Homo sapiens: one gene and its partners. The protein of the gene in region 1 purifies or fractionates together with the protein of each later gene. This does not show direct contact. Each region holds a gene or a part of one and is shown on either strand. Other genes may lie near its edges. The genes, in order: SPDEF, PRDM16, FASTKD1, SLC30A9 and PRMT8.

The links.
Region 2: the proteins of SPDEF (region 1) and PRDM16 purify together in Homo sapiens (affinity purification with mass spectrometry; 3 studies listed by BioGRID and IntAct, with this or other methods). This does not show direct contact.
Region 3: the proteins of SPDEF (region 1) and FASTKD1 purify together in Homo sapiens (affinity purification with mass spectrometry; 3 studies listed by BioGRID and IntAct, with this or other methods). This does not show direct contact.
Region 4: the proteins of SPDEF (region 1) and SLC30A9 purify together in Homo sapiens (affinity purification with mass spectrometry; 2 studies listed by BioGRID and IntAct, with this or other methods). This does not show direct contact.
Region 5: the proteins of SPDEF (region 1) and PRMT8 purify together in Homo sapiens (affinity purification with mass spectrometry; 2 studies listed by BioGRID and IntAct, with this or other methods). This does not show direct contact.

What each region holds. Positions count from the first base shown.
Region 1 is NC_000006.12:34,553,530-34,557,742, forward strand, and holds the start of SPDEF (SAM pointed domain-containing Ets transcription factor), read right to left. Parts: upstream 2,801-4,213; 5' UTR 2,400-2,800; intron 1-2,399. UniProt on the Homo sapiens protein: May function as an androgen-independent transactivator of the prostate-specific antigen (PSA) promoter. Binds to 5'-GGAT-3' DNA sequences. May play a role in the regulation of the prostate gland and/or prostate cancer development.
Region 2 is NC_000001.11:3,072,184-3,075,703, reverse strand, and holds part of PRDM16 (histone-lysine N-methyltransferase PRDM16), read right to left. Parts: exon of another isoform or gene 142-3,520; intron 1-141. UniProt on the Homo sapiens protein: Binds DNA and functions as a transcriptional regulator. Displays histone methyltransferase activity and monomethylates 'Lys-9' of histone H3 (H3K9me1) in vitro.
Region 3 is NC_000002.12:169,528,847-169,532,366, reverse strand, and holds part of FASTKD1 (FAST kinase domain-containing protein 1, mitochondrial), read left to right. Parts: intron 1-876; coding exon 877-1,015; intron 1,016-1,665; coding exon 1,666-1,780; intron 1,781-2,440; coding exon 2,441-2,542; 3' UTR 2,543-3,520. UniProt on the Homo sapiens protein: Involved in the down-regulation of mitochondrial MT-ND3 mRNA levels which leads to decreased respiratory complex I abundance and activity.
Region 4 is NC_000004.12:42,074,017-42,077,536, forward strand, and holds part of SLC30A9 (proton-coupled zinc antiporter SLC30A9, mitochondrial), read left to right. Parts: intron 1-1,640; coding exon 1,641-1,770; intron 1,771-3,520. UniProt on the Homo sapiens protein: Mitochondrial proton-coupled zinc ion antiporter mediating the export of zinc from the mitochondria and involved in zinc homeostasis, zinc mobilization as well as mitochondrial morphology and health.
Region 5 is NC_000012.12:3,497,691-3,501,210, forward strand, and holds part of PRMT8 (protein arginine N-methyltransferase 8), read left to right. Parts: intron 1-3,520. UniProt on the Homo sapiens protein: S-adenosyl-L-methionine-dependent and membrane-associated arginine methyltransferase that can both catalyze the formation of omega-N monomethylarginine (MMA) and asymmetrical dimethylarginine (aDMA) in proteins such as NIFK, myelin basic protein, histone H4, H2A and H2A/H2B dimer.

The DNA of each region.
Region 1 (4,213 bases):
TTCTTGTCTGTTAAATGGGCTGTCAAGAGTATGTCTTAAAGGGGTTGTGGAGATTGAGATGGAGGGTGAATGGAAATCATTTATGATGGGTTGAGTGTACATGAGGGGGGCCCTGGGCACAGGTGAGGGGATCAGCTGGAGAAGAGGAAAGAGAGAGGGAATGGGGTGAGGAAGCCGGGGAGCAAAGGAAGAAGCGGAAGGTGATGGGGAGTAGAGGGAGTGGGCGAGAGAGTGGAGTCTGGGGGGAGCTGAGGATGGTGGTGAGGGAGGCTGGGGCCCTGTCCTGTTCTCTAGCCCAGTCCAGGCAGCTGCAGGCTTCACCCACCCTCCCTGCCCTCTAGGAGGAACCAGAACCAAGAATTCCTGCCCCACCCACTTCCCCCCGGCCCCCGCACCCGCCACCACCCCCCAACGCCCAGGAGACCGGCTGGCAAATCCAACTCCTACACAGCCTTCAAGGTCCTGCTCCAGGCTGTCTCCTCCGTGAAGCCTGCTTTAACAGGCAATAGCCTTGTCTAACCTTGTTTCACAGACAAGGTGTTGCAAGTACAGTGAGGAAAAGTGACCCGCCCACGGTCCCACATGGCGGGACCTCACCTGTTCCTTCTTGCCCTCCACCTTGAGGGTCTGTGTCCCCCTGTCAGACTAAATTAACTTCCCCGGGTTATACTCAGGCTGCAACAAGTCATTTAGCACAAAACTGCTCTAACGGTTTCAGGGCTATTCACTTTATACTCACAACGACCTCAGTGGTAAAAAGTGGGTTCTCCCGGTTTTTGCACTTCCTGCCAGCATCACACTTTCTGAGCATCGACTGAGCACCTACTGAGTGCAGCCCTATTCCCTCAGACTTGGTTGACAGAGAAGCCCTATCGAATTCAGAGGGTCCTTGTGAAAACCAAAGTGTTTTACAACTGACAGTGTGCAATAAGCAAGTCTGGTAGTTTTCAGCTCTGGATACCCCCACGGGGCCTCACTCAGAGGAAATGCTTGTACATGCACTGTCAGCCTCTCAAAGGCGAGGGTGGGTCCCCTACGCAGTGAGACCACCTCCTCCACACAGCCCCACCTGCCTGGGAGCTCCGAGAATGCCCCCCACCATTTGTCTGTGAGTTTGGGGTGGTGGGACTCCAAGCTGGGGGTCCTTGGCTCTGGCCCCTCTTGCAGGTGGGTGGAGGGAAGCTCAGCCCAACTGGCCTGGCTGAACCATGGCCTGGGCCTGCCCGTCTGGTGGGGCGTCTCCTCCCCATCCCTGCCCACCAGCTTGGGCCTGGGGCAGCCTGGACGCCTGTTTGCTTTGTTACTCAGCTGAGCAGCTGGTGATGGGGAGATGCAGCTTTATTGGGGAGGTTGCGGCAGGAAATGAGGCAAGTCCCAGCCCTGGCCGAGGAGGAGGAGAAAGCCCATGGCCATCATAAAGGACACAGGCTACGCGGGGCTCATGGCCTGGGTGTGGGCTGCTGGGCGGCCCCAGCTGATAGGTGAGGTGAGGGATCTTGGCCTGCCCCTCCCCAACATGCACACACACGCACACACACATGCACATGCAACACGCACGCGCACATGCACACACCACACACACACATACTTCCGCGCACACACACGCACGCACACACCTCCACCAGCCTCAGGGGCACCCAGTCGCCCAGGCCCTTCAGCTTCCCACCCTGTCATCCCACCACCCACTTCCTCTCTCCACCGCAGAAATCTGGCAAATCTTAGAAATGAGCACCTTCGAGGTACTGCTACTGTTGCTTTCCTTGTGTGCCAAGACCAGGACCCAAGGCTCTCAGCTTCCCCCAGTGTCCAAGGGCTCAGAGTGTGTGCTCAGCGGTGACCCCAGCCCCCTGGTTCCTGTGCCCATCCCTGCCCAGCCCAGCTACTGGGCTCTGGACCTGTCTCCCCTGTCCCGAACTGGACCCGGCCTTAGACTTAGCCCTGACCCATCAAGCTCCAGCAAGCCCCTGCCCACTGGTGGCCTGGCACCAGGGAGACCCTTTCCTCAGCAGAGCAGCTGGGTTGGCAGCAGCAGCAAGCCGCTTGTGTTTCTCCAGCCAAGCAGAACTGGCTGGGTCTCAGGGGCCGGGGCTCTGCATCTGCACGGCGGCCTCCCCTCAGGCTGGGCAGACTGGGCTCAGTGTGGGGGACCCCAGGCCTTGCCGGGCAAGGGGGCTCACCCAGCATGTAGAGTTGGCCCAGAGAGGCAGTCTGGGGAGCATGAGGAGGGGGCAAGGAATTCTGAGGGTAAAGGGATCCAGGTCACAGGGTCACTGATGACTGGGAGATGAGCTCTGAGCTGGCAAAGTGCGCCCCCTCCAAGTCCTGCCTGCAGTCGCCCACCCCCCAGCTGGCAGGGAAAGACCCCATGCCAGGGTACCCCCACCTCCTGTTGGACTCACCTGTTAGCTGCCTGGTGCCCAGGGAGCTGTCTGCTGCAGTGCCAACTTCAGGGGCCGGGAAGAGGTGTGGGCAGCTGAGGCCACTGGCGTGTCTCAGCCAGGCATCTGGGGGGCCAGCGGAACCAGGGGCCAGCAGGGCTGGTGGCAGAGGCAGCACTCAGGTTGGCCACTGGGGGCCTGGCCACCCTCAAGGGGTGGCCCTCTGAGGTCTCAGGGCTGCGTGCCTGTAGGGAGTCCCCTACCCCCAGCCCAGGGCTGCCTGCTGGCACCGTGGCAAGGCCCAACCTGAGGGGCTTGCAGGGAGCTGGCAGCAGGCTTGGAGGACTGGGTCTGTGGGGCAGTGTGGACACGGCAGAGTGCAGGAATGTGCTGGGAGGAAGTCAGACAGCCGCGAGATGAAGAGTTGGCCAGGGCCTGATTTCCCATTATAAGTAATCCTTCCTTATTTACCTGAACAAATACACTCCTTGCTTACCTCAGACCACAGGCAGGCTCCTGATTAACCCTTGCAGGTCTCCCCCTCCTTGCTGGGGGATCCATGCCCTGACAGCTAGGGGACTCATTCATTCACTCGCTCATTCACTCGTTCATTGGTTGCTGCATAGCCACTCAGCTCATATTACGTGCAAGGCGCCAGAGATACGTCGAGTGGGTCCAGGGCTGGGGTTCTAAGATGGATCAGCTGAGGGCCAGAGACAGACAAGTGAGCAGCAGTGGAGATCCAGAACCACCCATGCCCAGATGGAGGACTGAGGGGGCACTGAGGGTGGGCACCAACTAGGGAAATCAGTGAGGGCTTCCTGGAGGAGGTGCTGTCTGGCTACTCAGGCCAGGGATGGAGAGAGCTTCAGAGAACCCTGGGGAGGGATCCCGAGGCTTGTGGGCCAACCACGACCTGGTGGGAACTGTGTTCTCTGTGCCCCACAGGGTCCTCATGCAGACCTGTCACACAGTGGCGGTGAGGAAGGACTCCTAGCTCGCTTTCCCAGGCCCGTAATCGGGGGCCAGCCAGCAGCAACTTGCTCTCCCATAGCCCCAAAGGGTGATGGCAGGGATGCCACGCAGGACAGAGGTACCCACCACCAAGCACTTGCTGCCCCAGACCCTCCACCTCCTTGAGCCCTGCGGGGGCCACACAGTCCAGCTTTTGGCTTCCTCCATGTCCTGCCAGGTGGGCTGAGAGTTGTCCCTGGAGGCTGGGCCTTCCTTTCTCCAAATCATCTCAGAAGGGCTCCACGTACCTGCTACCTCCATTCTGACGGGAGAAAGTTCTAGATAATGCTGATTTTTCTCTTGTTTCAGGAGTAACTGTGTAACTGCCGAGAGCATGAGGATTCTGGGGCTGCAGGGGATCCCAAGGCCTTTAGAACTAGCCCCTCACCTTCACCAATACCCACATTCTCCAACGTAAGGTTGCACTTTGCACCCCCAGGGAGCCCTGTACTTGGCTGTTATCGTCACTGGCACCTTGGTTGAGGATCAGTTATCAGTCATTCCCCAGAGAAGGTTGAGGGAGGATGGAGCGGAGGAAGGGGAGGTAACACAAGGTCCTGAAATGGTACACTCGACCACTCCTAATCCCCAATGGTCCAGCCCTCCAGGGTCAATAAAGAAAGACACGCTGCGTTTCCAGGTGGATCTCCTTCCCCTAGAGTGCGTTTTTGTGCCTGCTTCTCTGGTGGCCACGCCTCCCTCCTCCCCACTCTCACAGAAGCCTGGCTTATATCACAGCATTCTGATGCATTAATACTAATGACCACTGCTTAACAGGCACCTACTGTATGCCTGTATGTTCGATGCTCATGAGATGCTAA
Region 2 (3,520 bases), on another chromosome or scaffold:
AAAACGCGCATGGGACGGCACAGAGCCTTATTCAGAGGAGATGAAATAGTCACTAGGACCCAGCCATGTTTTAAAATGATTATAAATTATTTTAACAGTGCATTTGCAAAGGGTTATAAAAACAGCCATAATATATTTTTTTCCTTAGATTCTAGAATTACCAGTGTGACAGCTAATGCAATAATGATTTGTTTCAAATGCCAGTGTTTAAGCTGTATAAAGCTGATTTTATACATTTTTCCAGTAGGCCGCATTGTAGTTAATGAAATTAAACACACCAATCGCATTTGTCCCCAGGGGACGAGGAACTGAACACACCACTGGTTTATTTTTTTATTAAAATAAATTGCAGCCGGCAAGATGGACTAATTGCATACAGAATTGAAAAAGAAACATTCCATTGATATAATTAAGCCAATTTTCATGGACAGAAATAGTTATAGTGGATATAAAATAAGCAAAACCTTCACCAGAATCTGACTTCCCTCCTTTTCTGCCCAAAATGTTAACTATTAAACAAATATGATCTTGGAGCGGCCAGCACTCCTATCTTCAGGCCTCGGGGCATTGTTCCCGCGTCTCAGGCTAGGCCGGCCAGGCGGGCCAGCCCAGGCACCTCCAGACCGTGGAGGATTTGATGGCAAAAGCCCAAGAGTGAAGTGGTCAGACCAGGGAGAGGCCACTCCTCCCCTGCTCTGGGCCCACCAAAGCTTGGGAGCACTCCTGGCCCAGGATGACCACCGTGGCCCTGGCTGCAGCCTAGGAGACACCCAGACTTCAGGAGCCGTGGCCCACGCCAGGCTGGACCAGGGATGTCAGCAGCCGGCCCCTTCCACCCTGCAGCTCAGACCAACAGGGCAGCAGCAGCTCCACCTCCCCCTGACTGCTGGGCGGTGGGTGGAGGCGGTGGGTGGTGGTTATTCCCCTCCAGATCTGAGGGGTGGCAAAGGGCAGGTCCTACACCTCCCGGGCCAACCTGAGCCTCCTGCATTTGCTCCGGATGAAGGCAGTGAGCGAGGGAGTGTGGAGGGTGCAGGCCAGGCCACCCGACCAAGGTTTCTGCTCCTCTGTGCCTGCCCTTGGGGACAGAACACCCACAGAAGGGGCAGGAGCTGTGGGGGACGGAGCCCAGCGGGAGTCCAGCCTGCAGGTGTGAGGTCACTTACACGCTGGACGCACGTGATGTCCTGCCTGCTTTTTAAGAACAGACCTGCTACAAGTTGAGCATTGGCCTTGAGAAAATGCTTAAACCCTGACACGCACACACACACGCGCACACACACACACACACAGAAAAAACCCTATGGAATTAACGGCAGCCTGTGGTGCTCTGTGGGGGAGGGGAATGCTACATAAGAAGCCCTGGAGGTCTTCATTCCACTGAATTTCACTGGAGCCTCAATCTGCTGTGTGCCCTCCCAAGAGTTCCTCCACCTCTCTGCGTCTGGGGTTTCTCACTCTCAAAAGTGGTGCCTGCTCGCCTGCACTCTGTCTTCCCAGGGTCAGTGAAGGGAGGAGGTGTCCTGTCCCCCAAGTGCACTAGGGAGCCCGGCCCGTCTCCCGAGGTTGCCGGCAGGGGCCGGGGCTGCGGATCAGACTGGGCAGGCGGGTCTACCCTGGAAAGCCAGACCCCCACCCTCTGCCTCCGTTTCTCTGCACCGTCTTCCCTCCCCCTACAGCCCCTACTTAAACCCAGGCGGCGCGCGCTCCCGCGTCTCTCGGGGCGCGGGTCGGGATGTCGCAGGGAACCCAGGCAAGCGGGGGGCCTGGCGCCCACGGTGTCCCGCACGAGGTCGAGGGTCGGCGGTTGGGGACGCGGAGGCCGCCCTCCTCCGCAAGGGAGGCCAGGAGGAGGGGACCCCGGGGTCCAAGCTGGGGCTCTAGAAGGGGAGAGCGCCGCTCCCGCTGGGCCAGGGTCGGGGCGCCAGGCTGCGCGGTGTGGACGCGGGCGCTGCTCCGCGGTAGTTGGCCGCGACTTTGTGCGCGGGGAGTGGGAAGTCGGCCGAGACTACCGGCCGGCCCGGGGTCCCCCAGGCCCCGCTCCCCGACCCGGCCCACGCCGTCTGCAGCCCTCGGTGGCTCGATTCTGAGCCCGCGGCCGCCGCTGCACCGCGGCGAGGCCCCAGCCAGCTGGCTTCGCTCGCGAAGTTTCCTTCCCGCACGGGGAAGTCGCCGGAGCTGCTCCTGGTCCTCCCGCGCCGGCGACGGGAGCTGCAGCTTCCAAGACTCGTTACACGGGTTTGATTCAAAACCTGATAAATTGTATTTAACGCTATTTGAAAATTTTAAACGAAATTATTCAAAAGATTTTTAATCCCGGATAATTTTTGTTGAAACTCTAATTATACATCACCTTAATTACCAGCCCAAGCCCCCCAAGGATCCCTAATTGCCTCCTAATTGAATAAAACAGGGGGCTAATCGGGCCCACAGCGGCCCAGCGAGCTGCCACCAGCCTCACCTCCCCTGAGGGGCCCGGTGGGGGGAGCCCCTGGCTGCTGGGTCCCCTTCACCCAGCCTCCCGGCAGAAATGGCAGACCTGGTCCCCTGCCCTGCGCACTGCCTACAGGAGGACTTGGGAGCCGAGGAAGCCTCGGGGCCAGGAGGGGCCAGGATGTCGGGCTGGCACCTGCTCTGGAAGAGCCGCTCACAGGACAAGGAGGACCCCCCGAGTGGGCGTCTGGTGGTTGGCGAGCCAGGCATGGCCGGTGCCTGTCCCCAAGGAGCCCACCCAGCAGTTGCTCCACAAGCCAGCTTGGCAAGCCCCTCCTGCCAGCTTCCGAGCCATGGCACACCTGCGCAGCCAGGGGCTGAGGGAGGGGGCCTGTGGGTGACACACAGTCCACTGCCGTGGGGCACCAAGCCCTGGCGGCCAGCCCCGCACTCCACCCCTCCACCGCAGCCTCTGTGTTTTCGTCCGAAGCGGGGCAAGACGCTGGATTCCCGCCGGACGTCCTGGCGCTGCTGCCCTAACCGGCCTTCAGAGGGAAGGCTGCCGTCCTGGCTCTGGGGAGGGGACTGGTGGACGGGGCCAACTGCCCCAGGGAGGGTGGGAGAAGGGAGGGCCCAGCCAGCCTGGCCTGTTTCTACGAAGAAGGAAGGAGGCTGTGAACTGGGCCGCCAGCCCCGCTTACCTCTACCCTGTCTCCAGCACACCTTCCACACGCATCACCCTCAAACACGAGCAAGACACACACAGTCCCCATCTAGTGGGGGCTGCAGCTCCCCCACCCCAGGGGCTAGATGGGACTTGTGGAGAGGACACTCCCCCAGCCCTGGGGTATGTGGCATCTAGGACATGGGGTCTGCCACCTAGGTGGGGATCAGGCCTCAAGGAGCAGCTCTGATGGGGGTGCCGACTGGCACATCCTCCTCCTGCACAGAGGCCCCCAGCTGTGCTATGAGGGCGATGGTGATCCAGAGAGCACCTTGGTGGTGCTAACCCCCCACCTGCCCACCTGGCTCACAACAGCCCTGGAAACAATAAGCTTTTGTTAAGCATTGAGTTTGTAAATGTGGG
Region 3 (3,520 bases), on another chromosome or scaffold:
CAAGCATGGCTTACTGCAGCCTTGACCTCCTAGGTTCAAGGGATCCGCCCACCTCAGCCTCCTCAGCCGGAGTAGCTACCACTACACCTGGCTTATTTTTTAAGTTTTTTGTAGAGATTGGGTTTTGCCATGTTGCCCAGGCTGGTCTGGAACTCCTGAGCTCAAGCAATCTGCCTGCCTCGGCCTCCCAAAATGCTGGGATTACAGGTGTGAGCCACTGTGCCTGGCCTGGTTGTCTTTTATACATTAAGACTCATCAGTGGGTTCGTATGTTGTCAGCTGATTCATTCAACAGAAAGTTCCCCTGTCAGCTTTTCACCTGCTGATTTTAGCAGTTATTAATGATCACTCATTGCCTAAATCCATCATTCAGAGGGGTGGTAAAGTAGCGATATTCTACATCTATCATGCCTTCTACATTTATTAGCTGGAATTTGTCTAAAAAGGACTTTCCCATATCAACTGTTTAGTTACTCTTATGTACAATTCATGTAGAAAAGACAGGATAAATGCTTGTATCTTTTTCTTTATTAATTTTCAGATGAGTTGGTTTAGCTTTCTCCAAATGTAATCAAGAGCCTTAAAGAGATTGAAACTCTTTAATGTGATTTGGCCTAGCCCAGCGCTAAATGTAGCCTAGTACTTAATATTGTTTTGTAATTCTTCTGGTTGATTTTTTTATTGATTGATTTCCAAAGAGAGGTGCCATTGGACCAGATCTTATAAAAATAACTTGGATAATCTGAGAGGTTCGTCATTCTTTTGTGAGTGTGTGTGTGTACAAATATTATATGCATATATATTTCAAATATATCTTAAACTTTTATCTGTAAGACTTTACCTAATTCATACTACCAGTTTCTATGCTTCCTTAAGATTTTGAGTGTATCTTGGATAAAAGAAAAAAACCTCTTCCGTATGGAAGCCATAATATAGCATTGGGACAACTACCAGAAATGCCCTGGGAATCAAATATCGAAATAGTTGGATCAAGGCTGCCACCAGGGGCTGAAAGGTAATTTATTTCTTAGTTTTAGATTGTATTAATATCTAAATGTTAAATTTGGTGTACTATACTGAAGTCAGTGATCAAGGATTGAAGGTAGTGGAATCTGTTCCTCATATGTCATGCATTCCACCTTTGTAACTTTGCTTTTCCTCTCCTTTCTGCTTTAATGTTCTCCCTTCTTCTGTCCAAAGCCTAGCAATCTCCCTAACTAAAGTGCTAAAAGAATTGTCCTCCACTGGAAGTAAAATAGTATCTTCTTTTGCGCTCCCATACCTCTCTACTTTTCTCATAGCACTTAGCCACTTCCTACACTGCATTACAGTAACTTACTATACATCATGTGTTCTCTGTTAGACTATAAGCTGTGTTGCTTCATATTTGTACCCCTCACAGTGGTTTACATGTAGTAGGCATGTGTAAATATATATTGGACCAAAAAAATGGATGAAAGCAGACAAATATTTACAATAATTTTGTGTAACTAAATAGGTTTGTCATCAATTACTAATTTCTTAGTAGAAACATAACTTGATATACTCATTTATATTCATTGGCTTTTGTTAGTTTATAAAGATGCAATCTTGTTTCTGAAAAGCTTGTAATTATTCAGTTTCTTATTCTGATTTTAGGAGTAAATATTTTTTTATTTTATGTAGGATTGCTTTGGAATTTTTGGATTCAAAAGCACTTTGTAGAAATATCCCTCACATGAAAGGAAAATCTGCTATGAAAAAACGACATTTGGAAATTCTGGGGTATCGTGTAATTCAGGTATGAAATACTCATGTAATTCAGCCTCTAAAAAGCCCAGAGACACTAGCTGTACATGTGCTTCCTTTTAATGTGAAAGTTCCAGAATTACCTTTTTAAATATATTTTTTAAAATGTATCACTCAAACAGGCCAGATACAATAGCTCATGCCTGTAGCTACTTGGGTGGCTGAGGTGGGAGGATTGCTTGATCCTAGGAGATTGAGGCTGCAGTGAGCCGTGATCATCCCACTGCACTCCAGCCTGGGTGACAGAGCAAGACCCTGTCTCATAAAAATAAATAAATAAAAGTTGTCATTTATTTTATTGTCTTTAGAATATCCATATCTTATGATTTCTATATCTTACAAAGGAGAGAGGCACTGTAGAGATGGATAGAGTTATCAGAGGAAACAACTAGGTATGAATATAGAAGACTATGTAGGAAAAAATGTCCATCATTGGTATTGTAGGAAAAGGAGGATGAAAGGAGCAGAAAAAAGTATTCTAGGCAATGTCAGAAGGACCCACTTGGCTTCCAGTAGAGGTTCACAGGCTATCCTTATGTAAACTAATTTCATAGGATTCCTACAGCTTTGATCAGTAGTGCTTATATGTCTTCCTCAATGTTTTTTGTTGTTGCTTTAAAACTTTCATTCAAACAACATTACTTATTTTCAGATTTCCCAGTTTGAATGGAACTCTATGGCACTGTCAACAAAGGATGCTCGGATGGACTACCTGAGAGAATGTATATTTGGAGAAGTCAAGTCATGTTTGTAGTTTTTATTTAAAATGAATGTTATCGTGTGTTACATTTGGACCTATTTTAATAAAGTGGCCTGTCTCAATTAAAAAATAGGTACAAATGTCCTAAGGTGGGAACATGCCTGGCATGTTTGAGAATAACAAAGGATCCAGTGTGGCTGGAGCAGAACAAGTGGGGAGTGGGGTGGGAGTGTATAAGAGAAAAGATAAGAGATAACAGAGTCAAATACAACCTCTTGGCTACTCTGAGCGAGATGAGAAGCCATTGGGGGCTTTTCAAGTAAGGAATGATATGAATTCACATTTTAACTGCGTTACTTTGGCTACCTTGTTGAGATAAGAAAAGACTACGATGAGGCAAATGTGTAAGAAAGAAAACTCTTTACGAGGTCATTGCAATAATCCAGACAACAATGGATGGTGGCTTGGAGAGAGTGGTAGCAGTGGAGGTAATAAGAAGTAGTCAGATTTTTTGGATGTATGTTGAAGATAAAGGCAACAGAATTTGCTCACTGATTGGATATGAGGTATGAGACAAATAGGAGTCAAGGATAATTCTAAGTTTTTGTCCTAAGCAACTAAGAGGATGTCATTAGCATTAACTAAGATGGGGATAGTCTATAGGAAGAGCAAGATGGGGGGCAGGTGGTGGGGGTTGATCACAAGTTTGTTTTAGATATGTTGAGTTTGTGATGTCTTTTAAACATCTAAGTGGATATATCAAATAGAGAATTCAGTAAATGAGCTTGGAGGTCAGGGAAGAGGTCCAGGCCCCAGATATAAATGTATAAATGTCAGCAGTATTCAATGCCATGAGAGTAGATGAAATCGCTTAAAATGAGATTAGAGAAGAGTGTGAATGGAGGAGAGGTCTGAGGACTGAGTTTTCAAGTGCCCCAACATTAAAAGATTAAGAGGAAGAGGAGGAATCAGGAAAGGAGACTGAGCAGGGATGGCCAATGAGGTAGGAGGAAGGAAGGTAAGTAATACTTC
Region 4 (3,520 bases), on another chromosome or scaffold:
GAAATGTGTTTATACTCTGTGAAGACTAAAGTAGAAATGATTTTTGAAAATGAATAAATATGTTCTGTGAGTTACCAGGAGAGAAAAAAAAAAGAATAAATGATATAGCCTTTTGCCAATCTGAAAAAGTTTTGTTTTAACTTGAGCACATGTAACTATAAATATTAAAACATTAATTCTTATTTCATCCTTGATGGTTGATTAAAATATAGCTTCCTTATATGGATAAAAAATTTTGGACTCAGTGTTTAGTAACCTGCTCAGGATCCCTCAGAAATTAGGGTCTAATGTTGTAAGAATACTTGGAGTCTTACGTAGGCTTGTTTTTCTAGTAAATCTCCATGTCCTCAGAATTCAGAGTGTTTTGTTATTTCTTATATGTGCTGTACAGAAAAGATCTTACAGTGATCACTGTAGAAAGAAGAGAATTTCTCAGCAGTTTCTAGGGAAGATTGTTTACTGAGGGTTAGAGCAGGAGGGGTGAAAAGTAGTTATGCTTGAGTATCTGCTTTCCTGTCTGGGAGGCAAAAGGGTATGATGCAAATACCACTGGGCTTGCATTTCTGAAGAGCTGGGCTGGGGAGTCCTAATCTGCTGTTTACTAGCTAAATTACCTTGAGCAAGTCACTTATGCCACTCTAGGATGGTTTTATCATGTATAAAATAAAGATGTCACCCTATCCACTTATGAAAGCCATCCATTAAATGCCTGCCTTATAGTTCTTACTGTATTAAACATTTTATATATGTATTAGCTCATTATTCCTCACATCAAGTCCCATGTGGCAGTTATTATTAACCTCATTCTAATAGAGAACTTCACAGCATTGTATGAAGACTTTTAAAGAAGCTAGTGAACATACAATTGGTTAATATACTCTACAACACCATTATAAATTAAAACAAATTTTTATATGGCATTTAGGAAATTGATAAGTAGATATATGGAGACAAAGGCTTATGAGATAACATGACATTTTAGAAAATTGATTTAGAGTTAATGAATATATATATATATATATATATATATATATATATATATATTTTTTTTTTTTTTTTTTTTTTTTTTTTTTTTGAGACAGAGTCTTACTCTGTTGCCCAGGCTGGAGTGCAGTGGCACAATCTGGGTTCACTGCAACCTCTGCCTCCCAGGTTCAAGCAATTCTCCTGTCTCAGCCTCCTGAGTAGCTGGGATTACAGGCATGCACCACCATGCCTGGCTAATTTTTGTAGTTTTAGTAGAGACAGGGTTTCACCATATTGGCCAGGCTGGTCTCAAACTCCTGACCTCAGGTGATCCTCCCTGCTCGGCCTCCGAAAGTGTTGGGATTACAGGCATGAGCCACTGCGCCCAGCAGAGTTAATGAACTTTTAATACATGAGCTTTATAATTCATAAATTACCATAAAATAATATTTGTTAAGTTTGCACCTTTGTATGATATCATGCCAAAAAAAAAGCTAAACGGACAGGCCTTGGAAAATGATAGGTGGTACTTAATGGTGAATACTCTGAAGCCATCTTAGTCCATTCTCGTAACTAGTGGGGAAAAAAACAATAATTCAAGCCTTTGTGCTATTAAAGTATATATATGTGTATGTATGTATAAATAAATTTGTATGCATTGTTATTGATTGCAGGGCAATTCATGATGTTAAAGCCACAGATCTGGGATTAGGTAAAGTAAGATTTAAGGCAGAAGTAGATTTTGATGGGCGAGTTGTTACAAGATCATATTTGGAAAAACAAGATTTTGACCAAATGTTACAAGTAAGTTTATTTGTTGTTTTCTTACATAACTGAGGGTTAGAAAAATGCTTTTAAGGTAAACAAAATGAAATTTTTTTTTATAGATCTTAAAGGCACTTTAGCTCTCAACTTCTTAGGTTCCAAAATTTAACAGAGACCTTTATATTTACTATGGAGGGGTTCAGAGGAGACAGCAAAAGAACAAACTTACTATTTCATGCTTGCTATGTGCATTTAATCTTTTTTTATCTAATTTACCCTCAACAACCCTGTTATTTCAACAATGAAATAACATTTTTATTTTAACATATATAGAAATTGAAAGACAGAGATTAAGTAATTTGCCTTAAGTTGTAGTGCCACAGAGATGGAGTCATATATGAATCGAGATCTGCCTGACTCCAGAATCCATTTTTTTATTAAGAATAGTTTAAAAGAGAATTTATAAAACAGAATATAATGAACAGCACAGATGTTACCACTTGCCCCTGTCAAATCTTAACATTTTGCTATAGTGTATTTGCTTAAGGTCTTAAAAAAAGAAATAATTACAAAAACAATTCAAGCCCCCATTTTCTCTTTCTATATCTCATTCTTCTTCTTCCATCCCTAGAATTAAACATTATGCTGAATTTGGTACCTGTCTTTTCCATTCAGATTTTTATACTTTTCAGCATTTTTTAGTGTAATATGTAACATTTTGAATGTTTAAAAATTGGTATAAATGGTATCCTACTGTATGCGTCTCTACAATTGGCATAACAACATATTTTTTAGATTCTTCCGTGTTAATTTATATATCTCTAGTCAGTTTACCTTCATTGTTATAGAGCATTTCATCCTATGAATATGCTGTAATTTATTTATTTTGTCTCCAGTTGATGGACATTTATATTACTGTTAGAAACAATGCCATGGCCGGGCGCGGTGGCTCACGTCTGTAATCCCAGCACTTTGGGAGGCCGAGGTGGGCGGATCACGAGGTCAAGAGATCGATCCCATCCTGGCCCACATGGTGAAAACCCGTATCTACTAAAAATACAAAAATTAGCTGGGTGTGGTGGTGCGTGCCTGTAGTCCCAGCTACTCGGCAGGCTGAGGCAGTAGAATCGCTTGAACCTGGGAGTTGGAGGTTGCAGTGAGCCTAGATCGTGCCACTGCACTCCAGCCTGGGCGACAGAGCGAGACTCCGTCTCAAAAAAAAAAAAAAAAGAAAGAAACAATGCCATGATTGCATTCTCACACGTTTCCTTGTTCACATATATGAAAATTTCTTTAGTATGGTGTATATATAGATAGCTAGATTTTAAATAGGTGGGCCATTGGGTGTACTTACCTTCAGCTTGCCTAGGTCTTACCAAGTTATTTTCCAAAGTGTGTCAATTTAACTTCCATCATTGTATATCAAGGTTCTTGCTTCCTATTCTTACATGATTGTATTAATAGAGTTATTAAATTTTTGCCAGTTTGATAGGTGTGAAATAGTATCTTGTTCTAATTTTATTTCTTGGAGCATTGAGGTTAATAAACATTGAAGTTCATTGACCAGTGGGATTTCCTCTACATTGCTCCCTGATTTTTCATGTTTTAAGTTCATTTGCATTACACTTATAGATTTGAAAGGTCTTTATTTTATTGCATTGTATTATTATTTTTTGAGACAGAGTCTCGCTCTGTCACCCAGGCTGGAGTGCAGTGGCGCGATCTTGGCTCACTGCAACCTCCGCCCCCCAGGTTCAAGCAATTATCTACCTCAGCCTCCCAAGTAGCT
Region 5 (3,520 bases), on another chromosome or scaffold:
TCTTTTCTTACTTCACTTGTTATAAGAATTCCCTCAAGCATCACAGTTTTTCCCATATTTGTAATGAGTGGCCCATAAGTAAAGATCTCTTTTTAAAGTGTAATTTTATATTGAGCAAACAGCTTGATGTGCGTATTTTCATAAAGTCATAGAATGTTAAAGTTGGGTGGAAACTCAAATCACTTAAGTCAGGAGATAGGAACTACTTGTCCAATATCACAGAGCTCTTCCGTGTTGGGGTCAAGATCCTGTGGACTCCTGGGTCTGTGCTCTTTATACCTCCTTTAAACGTAGCATCTCATTTATTGTTTTTATTTTTTGTGCCAACTTTCTGGTATATCCTGATCTGTACTGTCTAAGACCAGTGTTTCTCTGCATAAGGTCTAGGAATTGTGCATAGTGAGAGCTCTGACCTTCTTGTAGAACTTAAAATGCTCGCTTATTACATTGCATTGTGTGCAATGCTGTGAATTACATATATCCCCATTGTATGGATTAATAAACTGAAGCACAGAGAGTTACTGTTATTTGCTCAAAATCCCACAGCTGGTAAGTGATGAGGCTAGAGCTCAAAGTCTGGTTTTCTAATCACCAAAATGCTTTTTCTAGTCCGCTAGGCTGCGAAGGCATGAGAAGAACCAGAGTACAAACTTAAAATGTGAAGAGAAAGGGTGGAGAAATTAACAGCAGGAATGTGGAATGGTGAATTTGGAAGAAGCCTAGGAAGAGACACCAGCCCAGCTTTCCTTTTTCCAGGACGTCTTTTCTTGCTTCCACCGCCATCTTGCCATCCTCACTTTCACAGTCTCCAGTACTGTGCCGTGTGAGTGACAGGGGCCTGACATAATTGTGGCAGGGACAGCCATCACCTCACTCTCCCTGCGCATCTAAACTATCCCTAGGCGTGGGTTCCTAGCTGGACCCAGTAGACAATGTACTTGTCTAACAAAGTATAGCTCTTCGGAAGCTTGACCCTAGGCCATCAATATTAGATCTGGACTCTCATCCAGCTACTTTATTGGGATAAAATGAATACTAAAGTCTCCAGGACAGGAACTTTGTTTCTTAAAATTTATCTTTGTAGTTTCATCACCTGTATTACCCTCCTAGGTCTGCTGTAATAAAGTACCACAAACTGGGTGGCTTTAAAACAACGAGATGTCTTCTTCCACAGTTCTGGAAGCCAGAAGTCTGAAATCCAGATGCCAGCAGGGTTGGTTCCTCTTGAAGTCTTCATGGAGAATCTGTTCCTTGCCTTTCTTCTGGTTTCCCGTGGTGGCCAACGATGCTCAGCCTTCCTTGGCTATAGACACATCATCTGGTCTCTGCCTTCATCTTCACAGGGCATTCTTTCCTGTGTGTGTCTATACGTCTTCTTATAAGGACAACAGTCTTGTTGGATTAGGGGCCACTCTAATCCAATATGACTTCATCTTAACTTGATAACATCTGCAAAGACCCTATTTTTATTTTTATTTATTTATTTATTTTTTTTTTCCTTTCTTTTTTTTTTTTTTTATTATACTCTAAGTTTTAGGGTACATGTGCACATTGTGCAGGTTAGTTACATATGTATACATGTGCCATGCTGGTGCACTGCACCCACTAATGTGTCATCTAGCATTAGGTATATCTCCCAATGCTATCCCTCCCCCCTCCCCCCGACCCCACCACAGTCCCCAGAGTGTGATATTCCCCTTCCTGTGTCCATGTGATCTCATTGTTCAATTCCCACCTATGAGTGAGAATATGCGGTGTTAGGTTTTTTGTTCTTGCGATAGTTTACTGAGAATGATGGTTTCCAATTTCATCCATGTCCCTACAAAGGATATGAACTCATCATTTTTTATGGCTGCATAGTATTCCATGGTGTATATGTGCCACATTTTCTTAATCCAGTCTATCATTGTTGGACATTTGGGTTGGTTCCAAGTCTTTGCTATTGTGAATAGTGCCGCAATAAACATACGTGTGCATGTGTCTTTATAGCAGCATGATTTATAGTCCTTTGGGTATATACCCAGTAATGGGATGGCTGGGTCAAATGGTATTTCTAGTTCTAGATCCCTGAGGAATCGCCACACTGACTTCCACAATGGTTGAACTAGTTTACAGTCCCACCAACAGTGTAAAAGTGTTCCTATTTCTCCACATCCTCTCCAGCACCTGTTGTTTCCTGACTTTTTAATGATTGCCATTCTAACTGGTGTGAGATGATATCTCATAGTGGTTTTGATTTGCATTTCTCTGATGGCCAGTGATGATGAGCATTTCTTCATGTGTTTTTTGGCTGCATAAATGTCTTCTTTTGAGAAGTGTCTGTTCATGTCCTTCGCCCACTTTTTGATGGGGTTGTTTGTTTTTTTCTTGTAAATTTGTTTGAGTTCATTGTAGATTCTGGATATTAGCCCTTTGTCAGATGAGTAGGTTGCGAAAATTTTCTCCCATGTTGTAGGTTGCCTGTTCACTCTGATGGTAGTTTCTTTTGCTGTGCAGAAGCTCTTTAGTTTAATTAGATCCCATTTGTCAATTTTGGCTTTTGTTGCCATTGCTTTTGGTGTTTTGGACATGAAGTCCTTGCCCACGCCTATGTCCTGAATGGTAATGCCTAGGTTTTCTTCTAGGGTTTTTATGGTTTTAGGTCTAACGTTTAAATCTTTAATCCATCTTGAATTGATTTTTGTATAAGGTGTAAGGAAGGGATCCAGTTTCAGCTTTCTACATATGGCTAGCCAGTTTTCCCAGCACCATTTATTAAATAGGGAATCCTTTCCCCATTGCTTGTTTTTCTCAGGTTTGTCAAAGATCAGATAGTTGTAGATATGCGGCATTATTTCTGAGGGCTCTGTTCTGTTCCATTGATCTATATCTCTGTTTTGGTACCAGTACCATGCTGTTTTGGTTACTGTAGCCTTGTAGTATAGTTTGAAGTCAGGTAGTGTGATGCCTCCAGCTTTGTTCTTTTGGCTTAGGATTGACTTGGCGATGCGGGCTCTTTTTTGGTTCCATATGAACTTTAAAGTAGTTTTTTCCAATTCTGTGAAGAAAGTCATTGGTAGCTTGATGGGGATGGCATTGAATCTGTAAATTACCTTGGGCAGTATGGCCATTTTCACGATATTGATTCTTCCTACCCATGAGCATGGAATGTTCTTCCATTTGTTTGTGTCCTCTTTTATTTCCTTGAGCAGTGGTTTGTAGTTCTCCTTGAAGAGGTCCTTCACATCCCTTGTAAGTTGGATTCCTAGGTATTTTATTCTCTTTGAAGCAATTGTGAATGGGAGTTCACCCATGATTTGGCTCTCTGTTTGTCTGTTGTTGGTGTATAAGAATGCTTGTGATTTTTGTACATTGATTTTGTATCCTGAGACTTTGCTGAAGTTGCTTATCAGCTTAAGGAGATTTTGGGCTGAGACGATGGGGTTTTCTAGATAAACAATCATGTCGTCTGCAAACAGGGACAATTTGACTTCCTCTTTTCCTAATTGAATACCCTTTATTTCCTTCTCCTGCCTGATTG